Linked DNA regions of Homo sapiens. Each later gene encodes a partner of the first gene's protein in a complex. Each region holds a gene or a part of one and is shown in the gene's direction. Other genes may lie near its edges. The genes, in order: PRKAB2, PRKAA2 and PRKAA1.

Evidence for each region.
Region 2: the proteins of PRKAB2 (region 1) and PRKAA2 are in contact, whole or in part, in a crystal structure (PDB 6B2E), measured with the Homo sapiens proteins. Residues at the interface, in NP_005390.1 of Homo sapiens: Val60, Ser61, Gln64, Glu67, Asp68, Ser69, Thr73, Gln74, Ala76, Pro78, Thr79, Val80, Ile81, Arg82, Ile106, Ser108, Val113, Ile115, Val155, Ser158, Asp159, Phe160, Glu161, Phe163, Asp164, Lys167, Leu168, Gln191, Met193, Tyr194; in NP_006243.2 of Homo sapiens: Gly9 (codon at 4,388), Arg10 (codon at 4,391), Val11 (codon at 4,394), Lys12 (codon at 4,397), Ile13 (codon at 4,400), Thr21 (codon at 4,424), Asn48, Arg49, Val58, Gln66, Gln81, Val82, Ile83, Ser84, Thr85, Pro86, Thr87, Asp88, Phe89, Met134, Met164, Ser165, Asp166, Gly167, Glu168, Phe169, Leu189, Ala191, Glu194, Pro253.
Region 3: the proteins of PRKAB2 (region 1) and PRKAA1 are in contact, whole or in part, in a crystal structure (PDB 4RER), measured with the Homo sapiens proteins. Residues at the interface, in NP_005390.1 of Homo sapiens: Val80, Arg82, Ser84, Ser108, His109, Asp111, Ile115, Ser138, Asp159, Phe160, Glu161, Val162, Ala165, Leu166, Ser182, Ser184, Gly190, Gln191, Glu192, Met193, Tyr194, Ala195, Phe196, Glu199, Arg201, Lys203, Ser204, Pro205, Pro206, Ile207; in NP_006242.5 of Homo sapiens: Gly20, Val22, Lys40, Lys42, Asn59, Arg60, Gln61, Lys62, Val69, Arg73, Val93, Ile94, Ser95, Thr96, Pro97, Ser98, Asp99, Ile100, Met145, Met175, Ser176, Asp177, Gly178, Glu179, Phe180, Arg199, Leu200, Ala202, Pro204, Glu205.

Annotation. Positions count from the first base shown.
Region 1 is NC_000001.11:147,169,446-147,176,880, reverse strand, and holds the start of PRKAB2 (5'-AMP-activated protein kinase subunit beta-2), read left to right. Parts: upstream 1-4,410; 5' UTR 4,411-4,452; exon of another isoform or gene 4,453-4,713; 5' UTR 4,714-4,736; coding exon 4,737-4,892; intron 4,893-7,435. UniProt on the Homo sapiens protein: Non-catalytic subunit of AMP-activated protein kinase (AMPK), an energy sensor protein kinase that plays a key role in regulating cellular energy metabolism.
Region 2 is NC_000001.11:56,641,025-56,648,334, forward strand, and holds the start of PRKAA2 (5'-AMP-activated protein kinase catalytic subunit alpha-2), read left to right. Parts: upstream 1-4,289; 5' UTR 4,290-4,363; coding exon 4,364-4,457; intron 4,458-4,728; exon of another isoform or gene 4,729-4,971; intron 4,972-7,310. UniProt on the Homo sapiens protein: Catalytic subunit of AMP-activated protein kinase (AMPK), an energy sensor protein kinase that plays a key role in regulating cellular energy metabolism.
Region 3 is NC_000005.10:40,788,332-40,795,437, reverse strand, and holds part of PRKAA1 (5'-AMP-activated protein kinase catalytic subunit alpha-1), read left to right. Parts: intron 1-5,233; exon of another isoform or gene 5,234-5,367; intron 5,368-5,404; exon of another isoform or gene 5,405-5,486; intron 5,487-7,106. UniProt on the Homo sapiens protein: Catalytic subunit of AMP-activated protein kinase (AMPK), an energy sensor protein kinase that plays a key role in regulating cellular energy metabolism.

The DNA of each region.
Region 1 (7,435 bases):
CCCAGGATTTAATGATCACATGCCTACTCCTCTCATTTTACAGATGAGAAAATTTATGGCTAAAAAGATAAAAGTACTTGCCCTACATCAAATAATTTTAGAGTTGGCAGCCTATTTGTACCAAATTAATACTCACATGGTGATGATATATACATAGTAGATTCATAGTTAATGAAGATGTTGAGATACTAATTATTCCAGTAATGTATATCTATAATTTTAGAGGAAATTTGCAGTGAATATTTAGTCACAGTATCACTATACACCATATCTATTTAGAGTTGTAGTAGTTTCCTTAGAGATTTCCAGAGCATGTGCTCCTCTAGAGCAGGGGTGGCTCAGCAAAAGCTCAACAAGTATTGGGGCCCTCAATCAAGGTTTGTTGAAATAAATGGACTATACTTATCAAGAAATACTGGCTAAATATTTAACCTGCACCTCATTTATAAAATGGAATATCATGGATCATCTGTTCTGCTTACCCTCATAGGGTGGTTCTGAGGATCACATGATAGAATTTACATGCAAATCCTTTGGAATCTGAAAGGAAAAATTATGATACTATTTGGGGAAAATTCTGTACCTTTGAATTGGGTCTATCTTCCTTTAGGTGAGCAGAATCACTATTATTTCTCTGCCTGTATAAAAACTATAAAAAGATTAAAATCAATGGTATTTGTTTAAAAATAATTAGTTTACCCAATGGTTGAGTAGTCTCTTGTGTATAAACTCATATATTTTGCTAATGCTGATTTTATTAATAGTTTTTAATTTAGGCATAATTTTCATACAATAAAAATTTACTTTTTATTGTACAGTTTGGTAAGTATCAATAACTCCACTGCAGTCAAGATACAGACCTGTTCCATACCTCCCCTTCAAAATTTCTTCATGCCCTTTTGTAGTCAATCACTCCCCACCCCCCACCCCCAAGTCCTGGCAAACACTGATCTGTTTTCTGACCGTATAGTCTTCCTTTTTCCAGAATGTCACATAAGTGGAGCCTGGCTTCTTTTACTTCCCATAATGCATTTGAGATTCATCAATATTATTGTATGTATCGAGTTATTCTTTTATTACTGAGTAGTATTCCATTTATAGCTATGCTACATTTTAATTATTGATTCACCAGATGTATTAGCCTATTTTCACACTGCTATAAAGACATACCTGAGACTAGGTAATTTATAAAGAAAAGAGGTTTAATTTACTTATAGTTCTGCATGGCTGGGGAGGACTTCAGAAACTTACAGTTATGGTAGAAGGGAAGCAAGCTCATCTTATGTGGCACAGGGGAGAGACAGTGAGTGTGTGTGAATGAAGGAAGAACTGCCAAACACTTTTAAAACCATCATCTCTGGTGAGAATTCATGCACCATCACAAGAACAGCATGGGGGAAACCGCCCCCATCATCCAATCACTTCCCTCCCTTGACACGTGAAGGTTATAGGTCCTTCCTTCAACACGTGGGTATTACAATTTGAGATGAGATTTGGGTGGGGACACAGAACCAAACCATATCACCAGGTGAAGGACATTATGTTTTTTCCATTTTAGGGTTTGTGTTTTTTCTATTATATGAATAAAGACATATATGTGTTTACAGGTTTTGTGTGAACTTGTTTTTATGTCACTCGGATAAATACCCAGGAGTGGGAATTAGTATGCTGCATGATTAAGTAAATGTTTAACTTTATAAAAAAGATCAGATTGTTTTTTGAAACAGTAACCATCAAGATCAGATGTTATACCTATCCTTGGTCATAAATGGAGGATGAAACTTGGTGAGTGGAGATGGGAATATAAACCTCCAGATGCCCAATTTAACCTGTCATCCAGTTCTGTAAAATCAATCCTTCATTCTCACATCCTCACTTCTCAGAGGAAGCGAGGTCTCTTTAGCAGTGTGTGTAAAGGCTTGCATGTGAGGCTGCCCATGTTATTTTTCTGTTTATTAGGCAGAATGATTGATCTGAGGAGACCAGTGGCAATGACATCCTAGACACAGTAACATCAGGACAACCCATTACTTTTCCTATTACCTCCTTCTTTTCCTTTCCTCTAGAAAGAAAGAAGAGCATTGGGGTGACAGCAATAAATCTAAAGGGAACAATTATACTGATACTGGTTAAGAGGATCTTGTATCTTTACTTATTCCCGAATCTAAGAAAAAAAAAAGGAATTTGGGACTAAGGAGAATTCATTCTTCCTACAGTGTCACATTACATTTGTTCTGTGTCTAAAACCTGCAATATTCAAAACTGACTTTTATTATTAACTGTTGAGTGACTTACAAATGTTGTTAGAGCAGAGCAGGGCAGAACAGTGTCATGGATAATCTTCCAAAGCAGATAATTCAAAAGTCATTTCCATTTAGCTGTGCAAAAACAGTTTATTTCTCTCCGTCAGTTTTCCATTGGTTAACGTACTTTGTTTCTGCTAGGCTGATTTGACTACTGCAAGGAAATACATACCAAGGACATATTATTTGGCATGGTGAAACCACCTTGGGGTCAGAAAACTGAATACTACACAAGTCAAGGTTTAATGTATTATGTATCTTCAAGGGCCTTGCTTCAGTGTCCTATGGTAAGGAATTGAGGGGTGGAGGGAGAAAAGTAGGGATAACCAAAAAGCATGTACTCAGACATAAAGATTTTGGAGGGGTGAGCAAGAAGTTGCAGTAAAATCGTACCTTTTTTTTTTCTTCCTGTAAACTGTCTTTGGTTTATGAGCCAAAGAATGAGTTTATAAGAGGCAGAGCAAAGAATAGGGGAGTAGTGAATTTGTTGTACTTAAGTGGGATGTCAACTTCATAATATAAAAATGAACGTTTCAGCAAATAGAGCTGCTCACTCAGAAAGGGTGGCCTATGTAACTTGGGGTTCCCCATCATTGGCCGTGTTTAAGCCTAAGTGGCATATCTGGTTAGAAATGGATTACAGTAAACAGTATTCCTGTATCCTTCATTCCGCAAATGCAAAAGCCTACTCTGTATAAGGTACATGCAGAATATGAAAAGGTATCAAATCTGGATCTGCTCTCTGCCAGCTGTCAAAGCATTGCTTCTCACACACTTTAATGTGATCTTGTTAAAATGCAGATTCAGAACCCTGGGGATGGGGCCTGATTCTGCATTTCTAACAGGCTCCCAGTTGACGCCAACACTGCTGGTCTGTGTAACACAGAGTGATAAACGTTTCTAGAAGGAGACATGCAAATACTTATAATACAAAGGTAAGTACCTTAGGGATTCCACTAATTTTCATAAAAAACCTGGATCCCTCCCAACCCTAGGGCTGTCTTTGCCCTTTTTATACCTTTAGTGTTCCTTCTGATGTTTTCGTTGTTGCTATCTTCCTTGAATTTTATTTCTTCTGAGGTTTCTCACTGTGTATGCTGTTTCTTAGCCTAGGAGAGCCTTTTCGTTCTTCTCCTAAGACTAACATTTTACTAATTTGTCAAGGAGCTAGAGCTCCTAAACACGCCATCTTGAATTCTTCCCTGCGACCCCAGTCGGGCTGAAAGCTCCTTCCTTGTCGCTCCCCACTGAACAGATTTTTCTTGGGGCGGGGAGAGGGGGACGGAGTATCGCTGAGTCGCCAGGCTGGAGTGCAATGGCGCGATCTCGGCTCACCGCAACCTCCGCCTCCCGGGTTCAAGCGATTCTTCTGCCTCATCCTCCCAAGTAGCTGGGACTTCCGGCGCGCGCCACCACGCCCAGCTAATTTTTGTATTTTTAGTAGAGCCGGGGTTTCACCTTGTTGGCCAGGATGGTCTTGATCTCCTGACTTCGTGATCTGCTCGCCTCAGCCTCCCAAAGTGCTGGGAATACAGGCGTGAGCCACTGCGCCCGGTCAGAACAGTTTTAACCTCCAGCAATGACCACTGCTTCCTTCTGCCTGCAGTTGGAAGTCAGTTTCAGTTTTCTTATTCCCTATAAGGAACCCACCTCTCCGGTCGCCTAACACACAGATGCTGCCCAGAAAACGTGCTGGCGCACCTGAGGCGGGGTAGAAAGCCGTGCCGCTCCTCCCGGCACCGAGCACCGGAGCCCAGGGAGGCGGCCTCCGAGTGTCATTTGGGGACGTCCCTTCTGCCGGGTAGTCTCAGAGGCCAAGCGCTCCTATTATCCCGGGCGCAGTCTCCCCAGGCGGGACAGGCCCTGCCTGGCGCCCCCTCCTGGCGCTGGAGGCTGCGTGCGACTGCCCACCATCGAGGCGGCGGCGGCGGCGGCTAGAGAGGCCGGCGGGTCCCGGGCGCCGAGGCTGCAGGCCGCAGGGAACGCGCACTGGGCGGACTCCGCGCCGCCGGCCTTGTAGCCATTTTAGGAGGAATCGCTGGTCGCCAGCGAGGGGTGCGGCTTCAATTTCAATAACTTTATTGGTGGCCTGATCTGCAGAACAGCCATCACATCAGTGGCCCTTGGAGGAGGGAGCGCATCGCCCGAGGTGACTGGAGTGGGGGCGCCCCTGGCAGTGAGCGCGGGGACGCGGGGGAGGTCCCGATAGCGGGTTTCCTGAGCTAGGGCCAGTGAGGGCACCGGGGTATTTGCAGGCGTTCCCGCAGGCCAGGAGGGAGAGGGCTCCAGGGCTCGGCTTCCCTGGGGCGGGGAATCCCTTGCCCTGTCCCGAGGCGCAGGGGCGGGGCCGGGGGGCGCCCCTGACGCGGCGGCTGAGGTGTTCCCAGCCCGGTGTCGTTCCCCGCGGTAGGTGGTCCCCGACGAGCTGCAGCCATGGGAAACACCACCAGCGACCGGGTGTCCGGGGAGCGCCACGGCGCCAAGGCTGCACGCTCCGAGGGCGCAGGCGGCCATGCCCCGGGGAAGGAGCACAAGATCATGGTGGGGAGTACGGACGACCCCAGCGTGTTCAGCCTCCCTGACTCCAAGGTAAGCGTCCCATGCCCGCAGTTGGTGTCAGTACTGCAGCGGGTTGATTTCTGGGCTCCTCTTCCCTTTCTTGGTTCTTTTCTACCGCGCCGAACCGGGCTATGGTTTTTTGAATTAAAGGGATTTATCGGGGACAGAGGTGTTGGATGATAATTCCTCTTGAAGTGCCGCCTCAAAATAGGATAAAGAGGCGGAGTTCTTGCTTTCCTGGTGTTCTGACTAATCTGTTGGCCACATTTTTAGGATGGGGACAATAGACATCCCCCCATCCCCGATCCTCCGAGCACGAATGGCTCTCTTCCATAGCGTTGCTGAATTTGTAGTTTGTAATCCCTGGTGGACAACTTCAGAGGGTAGGTTGCACGAGTTGCTGACCATAGGTGGTAGTTTCTCACCTTTGCCCTGAGGTGGCTAAATGAAATTCTTTTTCTGAAAATTTCTATGTATCAGTATCATTTTTGCTCTTCTAGCAGCTCTACAGTTGTGATCCTCTTCCCTTTTGGCACGGCTGTAAGCAGCAACTACTTGCTTATTGAATACTTTCTCCTAGTCTTGGGGATCAATTAAGGACATCATTTAGTTGACTGCTTAATTTTTGTCCCATACTTTATAGTTGTGGTGGCTGAGGCTGTGCCTCTTTCACGCCCCGCTGCTGCTCCGTAGGTGGAAGAGCCAATGATTCCACGACTTGTTTACTCCTCAGTAGTACTTCAAAATGTTGCGTGGCTAAAAAAACGACAACCCACAGCTGCCCTGAAGACCTTGCTCTCAATTCCAAGGACTTTCAGGAAGAGAACAACTTGTTTTCACTCTGTAAGAAAGGACAGATGGAGCTGATAGCAGCGATTACCATTCTAATGTTTCTAATGGCTTTCAGAGCTGTCAGCATGAAATACAAGTAATTCCTCCAGGTAGACTGACTGGATGAGATAGAAAAATGGAGGGCTTGAGGAGATTCGGGTGTGTTTGATGTTTCCTATCATTTCATCACTTCCCAGGGAACTGGGGCTTTAGAGAGTGAATAGAGTATTGTTTGCCATATTGGTAGCACATGGAATTTGGATTCCATGATTTATTTCTTTGGATCTCAATTGATAACATCATCACAGCCTGGCGCAGAGGCTCACGCCTGTAATCCCAGCACTTTGGGAGGCCGAGGCGGTTGGATCATTTGAGGTCAGGTGTTCGAGACCAGCCTGACCAACATGGTGAAACCCCGTCTCTACTAAAAATACAGAAAAAGTAGCCGGGCATGCTGGTGCATGCCTGTAGTCCCAGCTACTCGGGAGGCTGAGGCAGGAGAATCGCTTGAACCCGGGAGGCGGTGGTTGCAGTGAGTTTAGATCAAACCACTGCACTCCAGCCTGGGTGACAGACTCTCAAAACAAAAAAACAAAAAAACAAAAAAACCAACCATAATCACAGAGAAGTGAGAGTGATTAAAAGGAGCACTTATTGGGGTTTATTCTCCAATTCTCCATTCTTATTTGGGCTATCTACAAGCCATCTGAATTTACTTCTTCAAAGCTTTCGAAAGGTGATCCGCCTCATTATATTTTTACCCTTTTCCTATGTTGATGACTCAGGATTTAAATACAGTGTATTTGTCGAACTGTGACTGCAGTAATTGGTGTCCTGATTAAAAGCCAGGTTGCTCTGTCTGAATTGGGGCCTATTTTGTATTATTCTTATCTCTCACCTCAGTCTTGGCATTTGTGAATTAAGAAAATTATTCATATAATTTTCAGATTGTCTGAAAATCAGATAATTCCTAAGGTCTCATTTAAGTCTAAAATTTTATAGTTCTCAATGTAGCCTCTTTACTTCTAAACTCAACATTTTACTTAAACATCAAACTGTAGTTCTGATTGTCGTTTTGCCTCTTTTCCTGGTAGTTTTGCTGAGTAACTTGGAGTAAACAATCTTTCTGCTAGTCAGTTGCATTCATTCCTACTACAGAAATGTCATGTCATAAGTGGAAGGGCTTTCCTCCAAAGCTAGGCATATTAATAGTTTGTAGCTTTCAAATTCTAAACTGAAAATCCTGTCATAAAAGTAACTGACAGAAACAGTGGCAGGGGGGCCTACTTTGCTTTGAATGCCTGCCTTTTTCAGTGGACTAGTTCAGTGGTTCTCAATCCTGTTTGCACATTAGAATCACCTCAGATTTCTTTAAATAGTTTTTGGAAAATTTGAAACACTTTCAAAGTAGGGGGAAACAGTATAATGACATCTATATACATGCCACCCAGTTTGAACAATGATCATATCTTGAATGAACATATAACATCTATACCCCAGTCCACTATTCTCCCACTAGTTATTTTGAAGCAAATTCCCAGATATTATATCAAGTATTATTTTATCTGTAACATTTTAGGATGTACCTCTAAAGATGAGGGTTTTTTCTTTGTTATTTTAACATAATCACGGTATATCTGGGAAGCTTTTTTTCCTTTATTTTAACATAATCACAGTGTTATCTAGAAAGCTTTTTAAAAATAGGTTCCCAGATCTTACATCCGAATCTGAGGGTTATTCTT
Region 2 (7,310 bases), about 91 Mb from region 1:
TTTGTGTATGTTTGAAGTTTTTCACACAAAATTTTAAAAATGTAATTATTGAGCTTGTACTTCCTATAAAATACCATAAACATCCTTTATTATTCATTGAGTGTCCAAATTTTTTATTTTAAATTGGAGACAGCCATAGAAGCCCTATATCATGAATCTATAGACTTCAAAGGTGCTAACTCATGCCTCTCTAACCTCACTAATGACTGCTGTGCTGAGATGTAAAATTATGCTTTGCCTTTAATATGTGTATACATAAAATAAAACTGCACTCTTCCCTGTATTGTTGTTACTTGATTCTCTAGCTTAGTAACTAACCCTTTCTAAAATTCAATTTAGCAAATATTTTTGGAATGATATACCAGGTTCCACTAGGCCCCAGAAACAGCAAGTGGGGTATGAACATATCATTTGCATATATAATATGTAAATATAAATACATATATGTATCTATCTATATGTATGTATAATGTATATGATAATAGAATTGATAAATTCTATATTAGCTATATTAAACATGTACAATGGAAAACCTAAAAAGAAACATGTGATGAAAAACTTAATGAATCATGCTTAATGTCAGAATTATCTTTCTATTCTATTTAAAAATTTACAAAATATAAAGAGGTAATCAAAGAGTATACAGCCAGAAAATGTAGAAAACAGGTATTATAGAGGTATGTTAGATAATTAATTTATAAAAATATTGTTATTTGTCTGGATTTGGGGATGTTTGTGGCATTTGTCAGCTTTTATAAATTTGTAGAGAGTTGTTTTTCACTTCAAATTCTCACTTTCATACCCAATTTTGCATTTTTTTTTTCCCTTAAAGAGATTCCCCCACACTGAATAAACTTCAGGTGCCACATTCTGAATCTGCTTGGATATCTATATTTTGTCAGGCATTGTCCCGGGAGCTAAGGATACATCAGTGAACAAAATAGAGAAAAAAGGCCTCTCTTCTTTTGTGAAGTTTAGATTCTAATTGGGAGAAACAGACAAAAATATAATAAGCACATAAATTAAATAGTATGTTACATGGCTAGTGCTATGTAAAAAAGTTGAGGAGGGTCAGGGGATGAGAGTGCAGGGCAGAGAGCATGAGTGAGATAAAACTGCAATTTAGGCCTGGTGCGGTGGCTCACGCCCATAATCTCAGTACTTTGAGAGGCTGAGGCAGGACAATCACTTGAGTCCAGGAGTTTGAGACCAGCCTGGGTAACATGGCGAGACCCTGCTTCTAAAAAAAAAAAAAAAAAAAAAAAAAAATTTAAAAAAAATTACAAAAAAAAAAAAAAAAAAGAAACTGCAACTTAAATAGGGTGGCCAGGGTAGGGTTCACCAAGAAGGTGACTGTGAGCAAAGACTTGAAATAATTGGTTACTGATAATACCAATGGTGTCTAGTACAGTATATTAGTTTAGTGGTCTTGCATTAATGTCCTACTCAGGACTTATTTTAGAATATTTGAAGGTAAAACAACCCCAAAGTTTCAGAAGCAGGAGGGTAAAGCAGCAATAGTTGGACCAGCGCTAAGAACTGAACACCTCCCTGGGGCACTGGTCTTAGAGATTGGTACTAAACAATAGCGGCGTGAAACCTTCATTGGAAGATAATAAAATGGGAACATTGCATTTACCAGGTCATCTTTAGGGGTGAGACCTCCAAGAGGCATGACCCTTAAGGAGATCTACTCTGATTAACTGTCGAGTTTTCTACTGCTGAATAGGAAGAGGCAAATATGGAACCTTATCTTGAAGTGTCCAGGACAACAGAGGGCTGAGTACTGCCACCAAGAGTTGTCCTTCTTACCCACTTACCATTCAACCTTTCCTCTAAATAAAAGTCAGAAAAACAACAAAAAGTAGTTTAAATACTTACAAATTTATAGGATATATTATTGGACTGCCCAAGAAATAATAAAAATATGAAAATGGAACCACAACTGTGACAATTTTTAACTTTCTTAGAGCACCATACTTTCTTTTGGCATAGGCAGCTGCGGTATAGTAGGCAGACTGAAGGACAAGTCAGAACTGGATATGAGTTCTGACTCTGCCACTTTTTAGCCCTGGGCAAATCAGAAAGGGAAAAACTAAGTTTTATCATCTATAAAATGGGAATAATAATCTTTCTTTTATGACAATTAAATAATTGTGTTTAAATGAACTTCTTAATCAACAAAGTATCATAGATGTTTCACATAGTAACAAAACTATAAGGTAGTCCACAGTAGCTATGTAAGAATCATAGTTATGAAGTATATAATAATTTAACTTACAGTATTTATCAACAAATAGTTAAGACAGTACGAAATGCTTTGAAATCTCAATTTACAGTTAGTCTTTATGTAGCTTCAAGAAAGCAATCATCTAACTTCAAGTGAAGACTTTTCAACATCTTTTAACGGGATATTAGAGCAGAAGACATATACATCTCATACCTCAAAAGCAGAATAGGTCTTTTCTTACTCACTTGACTACTGAAGGAATGACCCTTAACCAGATGAAAGTTCAGCACAAAAATAACTGGCTATTTTCTCAAAATTGCCAGCGAGGTAGAGTGATTCCTAGATGATACTTGTCAGCAAGAAAGATGATCTGAAGAATGAACAAAAATAGCCTCTGTTTAACAGCTGTGATATCTATAATTTATAAGCTGTGATCATCTCTCATCAGATTGTCTTGATGTTTGGATGAGAATGAATGTTTGAAATTTCTATATTTAGTACTTATCAGAAAACAAAGTTTTGTTGTGTCCTATTCTTTTTGATCAATACATTTCAATTTACATATAAACAGTGTTCAAGAGACTTCATGTTTGAGGAATGTGACCTTGAAACTCTACTGGCATGCAGTGCTATAAATGTTTGACTAATCCTTAATTACTTATCCCCAAACAGAATTTTTTTTTACTGTTTTAAAATTTTTTATTTCATTGGCAAATAAAAATTGTATATATTTAGTATGTATATGTTTTGAAATATATTGATTGTGGAATGGCTATAAGTCAAGCTAATTAACAAACATATTGTATACGAATCTTTTTGTGTGTGTGGTGAGAAGCAAATAAACTTTAATCACTGAAAGACAGAACAACATTAAAGAATGAGACAACATTAAAGGAAGGAAGGAAGGAGGGAAGGAAGGGCGGGAGAGAAGGAAGAGAGGCAGAGATAATCGCTTTATTACCTAATTCTTTGCCAGTCTTTTTTCTTTTTTTTTGTGGGGGAGGGTGGGGAGGTCAGTCTTTGAACACGCTGCCTAGGCATCATGCTTCTAATTTCCTCTTACCACTCTTTTCACTTCTATATCACATTTATTCTTCCTTTAATATGTGACCTTATACTGGCCTCGCCCTTCACAATTCCTCTGTCGCTTACGTATTTTACTTTCTGTGGGCAGAACATTGTTTCCCTTTCCACGTCTTTCCCATTTCCTTCTTGTACAGCTGTATCACATTTCGGTACTATATGTTTATATAAGCGCGTGGTAAAACTACATATTTATATAAGCATGTGCTAAAAAACACTCGAGCAAATACCGTGACTGAGATTTTTTGGAAAACTGTGGGCAAATTAGTTAAAATTGAGAGCTCTGGCGGAGAGGGTCTCTTCCATCTATAGGACAAAATAATTGGGAATTACAGAATAAGTAGAGGAGGACAATTCAAGAGAGCACAGAGCTGCGTGCATTCTCCCTGTGCCGCGACCTGTATCCAAAAGCCTCAGACGAGACTTGAGGAGCTTCCTAGAGGCTCTCCTGCCACTGCCCCTTTGGCCAGGGCCCTTCCCGCAGTCTCCCCTCCCGATTCTTCCCTTTTACAGCCCCTCGCTCCCGACATGCGAGGCCCGTCTCTTCTTCCAGTTTGACTTCCAAGTCTTTCCATTCCCTAGGATCGGGCCCCAGTCTCACCCCCTATTTTCACCCCCTTCGGTTTTCCTCAGAAAGGGCCTCCTGCCTCCCTCGGCACCCTCGCCTACCCCCCTCGCAGCACCTGTCGCCTCCGCCCCTCACTCGGACCCCGCGCATCTGGCGCAGCCCCTCCCGCACTCCCGCCCAGCGCCCCGCGTCCCCGGCCCCCGCTGTCGCTGCTTCGGGTTCCGCCGCAGGAGCCTCTCACTCCCGGGAGCGGGCGCCTCGCGCTCCCTCCCTCGGCCCCGCCCCGCCCGCCGCTCGCCCGTTGCTTCCCACCTGGGCCCGAAGCGCCCAGCGCCCTCTCCCGGGACCCCGCGCCCGCCCCGCGCCCCTCGCGGCTCGGGGTCCGCCCCCTCGCCCGCAGGGCCCGCTGCACTGTGGGTAGGCGGCGGCGGCGGCGGCTACGCGGAGCGGCAGGCGGTGGAGCGAGGCCGCGCGCGCCGAAGATGGCTGAGAAGCAGAAGCACGACGGGCGGGTGAAGATCGGACACTACGTGCTGGGCGACACGCTGGGCGTCGGCACCTTCGGCAAAGTGAAGAGTTGAGTACGCGCTCCGGACCGCTGTGCGGGGCTGCCTGACTTGCGGGAGGCCGAGGGGAGAGGCGGGAGCCCCGGGCCTCCGGCGGGCGCGGGGCTCGGCGGCAGGTGGAGCGGTCCCGGGTCGCGCGGAGCTGGGGCCCCGGGAGGGTGGCGCGCACCGCCTCGCCTGGCACCGGCGCCCGGGCCCCACAGGGTCCAGGGAAGAGGGCGGGGGTGTGAGCTGAGGATGGGCGTCCTGGGTTCCAGGTTCCGCGCCCATCTGCCTTTCTGGAGGTCGGAGCAAGGCACTTCTGTGTTCTCTGGACCTCAGTGTCCTCCTCTGCAAAATCGGGAGAACTGGACTCGTTCTGCGAGGCGCCTTCCAGCTCTGAGCCTGTAGGCTTAGGGCGGGGATCATCCACGCTACTGAGGACTGAGGCGCCGTTTCGTGCCGGGTGCCCTGTTAGGTGCTTTACATGGAATCTCATTGAATCCTCACAGTGACTTGGTCAACATGTTGTCCTCACCCTAAAGGTGAGAAAACTAGGACCCCTAGAGATGTAGTAACAAGCCCAAGGTCACACAGAAATGGTCAGTACCAGAGTGAAGTCTAAGATGTCCTCCAATTCTGGTCTTGCTGGGAGGTCCCTGCCATCCCCAGATTCCTTCACGTTCCAGGACTCTCGGTTGTTGGGGGTGACTGTTTGGGGGATGCTCCAGGGGCCAGAGGTTGTGAGTCTTTCTTCCTGGGGTGTTGTTTAACGCTGGAATGCAGCTGGATTGGGTCAGAGGTTAATTAAAACAGAGAGGTCTGAAGGTGTTTGTGTTTGTAAAATGGCTATGGGAAGACTTCTAGGGTAAGGGAGAGAAAAAGTTTCCTTGGTGTTTGGAGGATTTGAGGCTGAGGAGGTCAGGACTGCTAAGGCATATTCTGCTAAGGTCTGTCTTCATGGAGATAGGATCCCCTTTTGAATGTAGAAAAACAGGCTGCTTTTGAAATGTTATACTTTATTCGAGTTAAGTAACTAGTAAGAATAGTTAAGTATGGAACTTTCATTTGTTTTCTTTTTTGTTAATTAGTCACATGTGATTTAATTAACCTGCCTTCTCTCCAGAATAGAGACAGTTGTTTATTAAAAATACTTTGTTGCAAATCCAGAATTATAAGTGAAATATTGACCTTTATTTTTTCTCTTTGCTGAAGAAATGCTGGGTAGGCAGTCTGGAAATTTTATTCTGAGGTCTCTATTTCCTTGTAAAATTCATATTTTAACCCCAAGTCAAGGCTGTTGAATGAGTAGAAGAGACTCATTTTTCATTCCTTTGGTAAGAATCAGCTCCTGTTTTCTTGCACATATTTAATACTCATTCATGTGTTCAAAAAACGCTGAGCACCTGCAACGTGGTAGGCACTGTTCTAGGCAATGAGGATACAGCAAGGAAAAAACAGATCTTTTTGTTTAGCTTTCTAGTAGGAGAAGGCAGACAGTAATCAGAATATATATGTAAAAGGTATGTTTAATTTTATTGAGAAAAACGAATCAGGGAAGGGAAGATAGAGAGTCTTGTGAGGTTGGCAGTTTTCAATAAGGTGGTCAGACAAGGTGGTATTTTTGCAAAGACCTAAAAAGTTTGTAAAATTCTTTGCTGTCCTGTGAGGGTTATAAAGTCCTGGGTTATTTTTGAAAGACCTTATAAGTAGAGTGGATAGTTAGAATGTATTTAAGATGAATACAGGACAATCCAGGGATTGGATTAATGCCTGTAATGTTACTTGTCATTTAGTATTATTATTAAGGACTATTGTGTTACAACATTATACAGTTGCTCAAGCAAACAGCGCCTTTGACATTTGGACATGTACACACAAAGTTATATAACTTAACCCTATGTCCTTTCATATTGTGTTAAAAGTTTTTGCTTGTCTTTTTAAGTTCATATACTGTAATCTGAATGTAGAGTAGAATACTCATCAGATCAATCAGTCCATTGCCAAAGACAACTTAAATCTCTTGTATGTACTTTTGAATTGTTTCCAGGCACTGGCTTCTTAAAATATAAACAGAAAGAACTTTGATTTATGAGAAATTCTTTTCCTGGAGAACCTCTGTCCAATGAACAACCAGTTGAAGGAGTTTTCCTAACACTGTGTTAGATCCTCTCAAAAGTGATACCATGGTTTCCTATCCAAGATTAGGATTAGTACAATTGTTACTCATATAATTCTTCAAGGGACAAGCGAAACAAAAAGTCATGTTTTTTTTTTTTGTTAGAAAACAGCTTTATGGTTGGGCACTGTGGCTCACACCTGTAATCCCAGCACTTTGGGAGGCTGAGGCGGGCGGTTCAATTGAGGTCAGGAGTTTGAGACCAGCCTGGCCAACATGGCGAAACCCCATGTCTACTAAAAATACAAAAATTAGCCAGGCGTGGTGGTAGGCGCCTGTAATCCCAGCTACTGAGGAGTCTGAGGCAGGAGAATCACTTGGACCCGAGAGGCAGAGGTTGCAGTGAGCCAAGATTGCATCACTGCACTCCAGCTTGGGCGGCAGAGCAAGACTCCATCTCAAAAAAAAAAAAAGAAAAGAAAAGAAAACAACTTATTTAGGTATATTTTATATATGAAATTCATCCATTCTAAGTGTACAATTCAGTGATTTTTACTAATTTTGCCAAATGTTGCAACCATCATTATAGATAGGTTTTAGGACATTTGAGGACACCACAGTAAGATTCTTTATACCCATTCACAGTTAATCTCATTTCTACCCTCAGTCCCAGGAAATCACTAATCTGTTTTCTGCCTGTATAAATTTGCTTTTTCTAGGCTCTTCTTCATAAACGTGATCGTTCAATATGTCATCTTTTGTGTC
Region 3 (7,106 bases), on another chromosome or scaffold:
TGGGTGGGAGACATCTTTTTTTTAAAATTTGTTTTATTTTTTAAATTTTTCTTTAAGTTATTGGGGTACAGATGGTATTTGGTTGCATGAGTAAATTCTTTAGTGGTGATTTGTGAGATTTTGGTGCACCCATCACCTGAGCAGTATACATTGCATCATATTTGTAGTCTTTTATCCCTCACCCCTCTCCCACTCTTCCCCCTCAAGTCCCCATAGTCCACTGTATCATTCTTATGCCTTTGCGTCCTCATAGCTTAGCTCCCACATATCAGTGATTAGAACATACTGTGTTGGTTTTCCATTCCTGAGTTACTTCACTTAGAATAATAGTCTCCACTCTTATCCAAGTCACTGCAAATGCTGTTAATTCATTCCTTTTTATGGCTGTGTAGTATTCCATTTTGTGTGTGTGTGTGTGTGTGTGTGTGTATATATATGTATACACCACAGTTTCTTTATCCATACATTGAGTGATGGGCATTTGGATTGGTTCCACGATTTTGCAATTGTGAATTGTGCTGCTATAAACATGCATGTGCAAGTATCTTTTTCGAATAATGACTTCTTTTCAGAAGAGATTGCTGGATCAAATGGTAGTTCTACTTTTAGTTCTTTAAGGAATATCTACACTGTTTTCCATAGCAGCTGTGCTAGTTTACATTCCCACCAGCAGTGTAGAAGTGTTCCCTGTTCACCCTTTTCAACAAATTGTGCTGGGATAATTGGCCAGCCACATGTAGGAGAATGAAACTGGATTCTCATCTCTCAACCTTATATAAAAATCAACTCAAGATGGATTAAGGACTTAAACCTAAGACCTGAAACTATAAAAATTCTAGAAGATAACATTGGAAAAACCCTTCTAGACATTGGCTTAGGCAAGGATTTAATGACTAAGAACCCAAAAGCAAATGCAATAAAAACAAAGATAAATAGATGGGACCTAATTAAATTGAAGAGCTTTTGCACAGGAAAAGGAACAGCAGAGTAAACAGACAACCCACACAGTGGGAGAAAATCTTCCTAATCAATACATCTGAAAAAGTACTAATATCCAGAATCCACAATGAACTCAAACAAATAAGTAAGAAAAAACAAATAGTCCCATCAAAAAGTGGGCTAAGGATATGAATAGACAGTTCTCAAAAGAAGATATACAAATGGCCAGCAAACATGAAAAAATGCTCAGCATCCCTAATGATCAGGGAAATGCAAATCAGAACCACAATGTGATACCACCTCACTCCTGCAAGAATGGCCATCATCAAAAAATCAAAAAGCAGTAGATAGATTTTAGTGTGCATGTGGTGAACAGGGAACACTTTTTTTTTTTTTTGGAGACAGTTTTGCTCTTGTCACCCAGGCTGGAGTGCATTGGCGCAATCTCAGCTCATTGCAACCTCTGCCTCCCAGGTTCAAGTGATTCTTCTGCCTCAACTTCCCTAGTAGCTGGGATTACAGACGTGTGCCACCACGTCCTGCTAATTTTTGTATTTTTAGTAGAGATGGGGTTTCATCATGTTGGCCAGGCTGGTCTTGAACTCCTGACCTCAGGTGATCCCACCCGCCTCGGCCTCCCAAAGTGCTGGGATTACAGGCCTGAACCACCGTGCTGGGCTGGGAGACATCTTCTAAGTACTTGGATAGTGTGGGGGGACAGGGTAGACACCTACACATAAATGGATGTTGTTAGGAGAGAGAAAGGGGGACATGGATACTCAGTGAACACACAGAAATGGCCACTATTGTGGTGATGTTGGTAATTAAACACCAACAGCCTTAATTATGCAAGAATTCTTGCAAATAATAGGGTTAACCATATGTTTAGACAATTTGGAGTAAAGAAAGCTTTAAAAATTACTTATACATATTGGTAAATTTAACATGAAGAGGGATCTAATAAAATATATGATATTGATATGCAGAAAAAGTCTAAGTATGATATTCCATGCTTATAGGAAATTTAATTTTGCGGGGAGAGTAGGCTGGAAGTTCGGAGTGATTGTTTCCTGTTACAGGCCAAAAAATTTGTTTGGTTACTTAGTGGTAGCATTTTGAGAGGAAAGTTTACAGAAAACTAGGGTTATTTTGTGATTATGCTTGAATTGTCTTTATTGTTTCCAAGGCATCTTTTTTTTTTCCTTCTAGTTATCAAGATGTTAGGTTCTGTGCCCTTGTGGGCCTTCCCTCTGCCCAAAAAAAGCATGGATGAGCAGAGTAATATCATTAAAATGGCAGTCTTTGTTAGTTTTTCTAGAGAAGATGGTCTCTTTGGTAGGCTGGGTGTATCTTCGGCAAATGAGTTATTTATACATATAAACTATTAAGTTGGCAAGTATTTCTTTTTTTTCTTTTTCTTTTTTTTTTTTTGAGATGGAGTTCCACTCTTGTCGCCCAGGCTGGAGTGCAATGGTGCGATCTCAGCTCACTGCAACTTCCACCTCCCGGGTTCAAGCGATTCTCCAGCCTCAGCCTCCCAAGTGGCTGGGATTATAGGCGCCCACCACTACGCCCAGCTATTTTTTTTTTGTATTTTTAGTAGAGATGGGGTTTCACCACGTCGGCCAGGTTAGTCTCGAACTCCTGACCTCAGGTGATCCACCCACCTCAGCCTCCCACAGTGCTGGGATTACAGGCATGAGCCACCATGCTTGGCCTAAGTTCGTAAGTATTTCTGTGTAAAACTGCAATTTCAGCTACATAGGTACTTTGTGAATGAATCATAGTAGAAGTTATTTAAAAATTCCTTTAAGTAAAAATTATAAACATGAACTAGAGCTATATATATCAGTGTGAATGAATCTTAAAAATATAAGGTTAGACCTCGAAAGCAAGTTGTATAAGAATATGTATAGTTTGCTGTTATTTATATAAATTTTAGAAACCTACAGAACCACTCATACAATGCTGGTAGAGTATAAATTGGTATCCTACCTCTACATGAGAGAGTGACAGCATTTATTAAAATTAACCTAACAATTCAACTTCTAGGAATTATTTTATAGATGTACTCGTGTATGAAATAATGGGTTATTCGCTGCCATATTGTTGTAAATATTAATACAAAACTTTCGAAGTAACCTTTCTAATAGTAATAGTTATGGTTTATCCATATAGTGAAATACCTTGCAAACATTAAGGAAGAAAAAGGGAGGAACTTTGTATATTTTAGAGAACAATTTCCAAGGTGTATTTTTAAGAGGAAAAAGTAGAACAGTGTGTTCAATATGCCTACCACTTATGTATAAAAGGCAGGGGCAAATCTGTATCTTAAATGTGACTGCTTTTATATATAGAGTATGTCTCTTTAAAGATACACACAAGACTGGTTACGTTAGTTGCTCAGTATAGGGGACTAGGTAAAGGAGGACATTGTGTTGCACCATAGATGCTTTTGTACTTTTGAACTGTGTGTATAGTGCAGGTATTGTGTTATCAAAATATATGCAATGACATTTGTAAAAATAAATATGAAAAATAATGTTACTATATTTTTTATGGATTCCTACCCATGTAAAAATATTTAAACGTGGGAAACACAAACACCAAATTCAGGATAGTGGTTACTTCTGAGGACAGATGAAGGATAAGGGAATCTGGGAGGAGTCATGCAGGGCTTGAGTTGTATTTGTAATGTTTTATTGCTTAAGCTGATGGTGGCTCATGGGTATTTGGAATGCCCTTGGTGTGCTTGAAATGTTTGTTTGCTTTCTTAAATTACGATCTATAGCTTTTAAAGCCCACCCTTCCCCAGGATTAAGCTATTTCCTTAACACGTTTTTATTCTTTCAATTTTAAAGTGGGAATGAAATGGTTAGGTGTCTAGAATATCTTTAGTAGATATTTCTATCTTTGCTGCTTCTCTGTCCTATTAAAATCCTCTGTTTCAAAGTATGATCTTGTTTCCCTTCAGGATTATATATCTAATTAGAAGAGCATTTGTTACAATGTTATGCAGTTAGACAAAGTTCCCTTTAGATAGCAATAGCATGGTTGTTAGCTAATATTTAGTTGACTAATCTGCTATTCTTGTGAGGGGGACATTGTGAATGCTGGTAATATTTGCTCTGAGTAATGTGCAAGTCTTCCGTGGCCAAAATATCTGTCTTCCGTTTCATTTAAAAGCAAAACCTTAGCACTATTCTAAAAACTGACAGTCTGAAGAATAAAGTTTGAATTTTGAAAAAGGGGGGAATCCCTTAGTAGTGCATATGCCTGACAGAGTCCATTTACTACATTCATTGATTGACTATGGAACAGCATTTAGTTTGGCTACAACTGAGTTTACTCACTGGGGAGAATATTTAGCCTGGTTTTGAGAAAACAGTTTAGTTTCTGATACCATGCCAAGCCCTTTGTCCCTCTCACTGCACAGTGATGGTGGGGAGAGTGGATAGGTCAAAAGACTTGGGAGTCGGAAGACCTGTCCCAACTTGATCACAATAGCTTTACTTCCACAACTTACAGAATCTCTTAGAGCCTCAGTTTCTTTATCTGTAAAAGACAATACCTCCATCATAGGTTTATGCTCAAATGTGATAATGTGAGTGTCTCCTAAGCTATTAGATGCCATATTTTAAAAAGTATTATGCTACTGAAGGCCGGGTGTGGTGGCTCACGCCTGTAATCCCAGCACTTTTGGGAGGCTAAGGCGGGCAGATCACGAGCTCAAGATATTGAGACCATCCTGGCCAACATGGTGAAACCCCATCTCTACTAAAAATACAAAAATCAGCTGGGTGTGGTGGCATGCGCCTGTTGTCCCAGCTACTCGGGAGGCTGAGGCAGGAGAATTGCTTGAACCCCGGAGGCAGAGGTTGCAGTGAGCCGAGATTGTGCCACTGCACTCCAGCCTGGCGACAGAGCGAGGCTCCATCTCAACAACAACAACAACAACAAAAAAAAAAAAAAAGAAAGAGTTGACTCCTGATAGACTATGAAGGCTGGGATACAAATTCAAAAAGCGGAAAACCACACGAGCTGGAACACTATAGGCTGGGAGCAAAAAGCCCTATCCTGCTAAATAACTCCCACTGCTGTCACTGTGTGAGGGTATAAGGAGCAGTTGATACTCATAAGTTAACATTTGTTTGGTTCCCAGTCTTCATGTACATGTGTTCCATTTAAGAAGTCATGATCATGTGTAGTACAATTAGAAAACCTGTTTTCAAAAAATATTACTTCTGTTAACTTGTTAATTTTAATGGTGAATATCATAGTTTAGAAAATCCACCCTCCTTTTCTTGTCAGGGACTGAGTGTGTGGTCCTGCTCCTGTTATGTATGGAGGCAAAGGGAAAGGGCTCCGGCCCCCTCAAAATCATGTCTTTGGTGCCAGCCGGTTCTGTTCTCAGTCACCTGGATACTGAACTTTCCTGAGCAGGGCAGAACTGAGATCCAGTGGGCTTCTCCCCAGGATGCTTACGCTTTTTCATTTGATTTCAGGTCTCCTCTTTCGCTTCCTATTGCAACCAATGAAGGCCATTCCTACCATAAGTAAATAAAAAAGAAAATCTATCTTTAATAAATAACAATTGTATATATTTATGGGGCACAATGTGATGTTTTGATACATGTATACATTCTGCACTGATCAAATCAGGCCAAGTAGTATATCCATCTCCTCAAATATTTATCATTTCTTTGTGGTGAGAACATTTAAAGTTCCCTTTTTTAACTCTTTTGAAAAATTAATATATTTACTGTAATCATGATGCTATGCAATACAACACCAGGATCCTGTTCCTCCTGACTGTAATTTTATGTAGCCATTGACCAATATCTTCCTTTTCCCCTCCAGCCCCACTTACCCCAGCTACTGGTAATCACCATTCTACTCTCTACTTCTGTGAGTTTGACTTTTTTAGATTCCAAATATAAGTGAGTCTCAGACACCTCTGACATACTGATTTCAATTCCTTTGGATATATACTCAGTAATGGGATTGCTGGATCATATAGTAATTCTATTTTTAGTTTTGTGAGGAACCTCTACACTGTTTTACAAAATGGCTGTATTTATAGTTTCACCAGCAGTGTATAAGTGTTCCATTTCTCTGTGACCTTGCTAACACTTATCTTTCACCTTTTTGATAATAGCCAGTCTAACAGGTGTGAGGTGATACCTTATTGTGGCTTTAATTTGCATTTCTCTTATGATTAGAGATGTTCAGCATTCTTTCATCTATCTGTTGGCCATTTGTTTGTCTTTTTTTTTATTTTTATTTTTGAGACAGTGTCTCACTCTGTTGCCCAGGCTGGAGTGCAGTGGCATGATCATGGCTCACTGCAGCCTTGACCTCCTGGGCTCAAGCGATCCTCCCACCTCTGCCTCCCAAGTAGCTGGGACTACAGGCATACACCACCACGCCTGGCTAATTTATGTATGTTTTATAGAGACAAGGTCTCACTGTGTTGCTTAGACTGGTCTTGTATTCTTGGGCTCAAGTGATCCACCCGCGTCGGCCTCCCAAAGTGCTGAGATTACAGGCATGAGCCACCATGCCTGGCCGGATATTAGCTATATATCTGATGCATGATTTGTAAATACGTTTTCTCAGTCTTTGGGTTGTCTCTTCACTCTATTTGTTTTTGCTTGTTTGTTTGTTTTTTTGAGATGCAGTCTCCCTCTGTCACCCAGGCTGGAGTGCAATGGCGTGATCTTGGCTCACTGCAGCGTCCGCCTCCCGGGTTCAAGCGATTCTTTTGCCTCAGCCTCATGAGTAGCTGGGACTACAGGTGTGCACCACTACGCTCAGCTAATTTTGTATTTTTAGTAGAGATAGGGCTTCACCATGTTGGTCAGGCTGGTCTCGAACTCCTGACCTTGTGATCCGCCTGCCTCGGCCTGCCAAAGTGTTGGGATTACGCGTCTGGCCTGTTTGTTTGTTTTTTGCTGTTCAGAAGCTTTTTAGTTTGATGTCATCCCATTTGTTTATTATTGCTTTTGTTGCCTGTGCATTAGGGGATCATATACAAGAAATGATTGCCCAAACCTGTGTCATGGAGCTTCTCGCCTAAGTTTTCTTCTAGTAGATTTGTAATTTCAGGTCCTAAATTTAATCCATTTTAAGTTGATACTTGTTAAGGGGTGAGATAAGGGTCCATT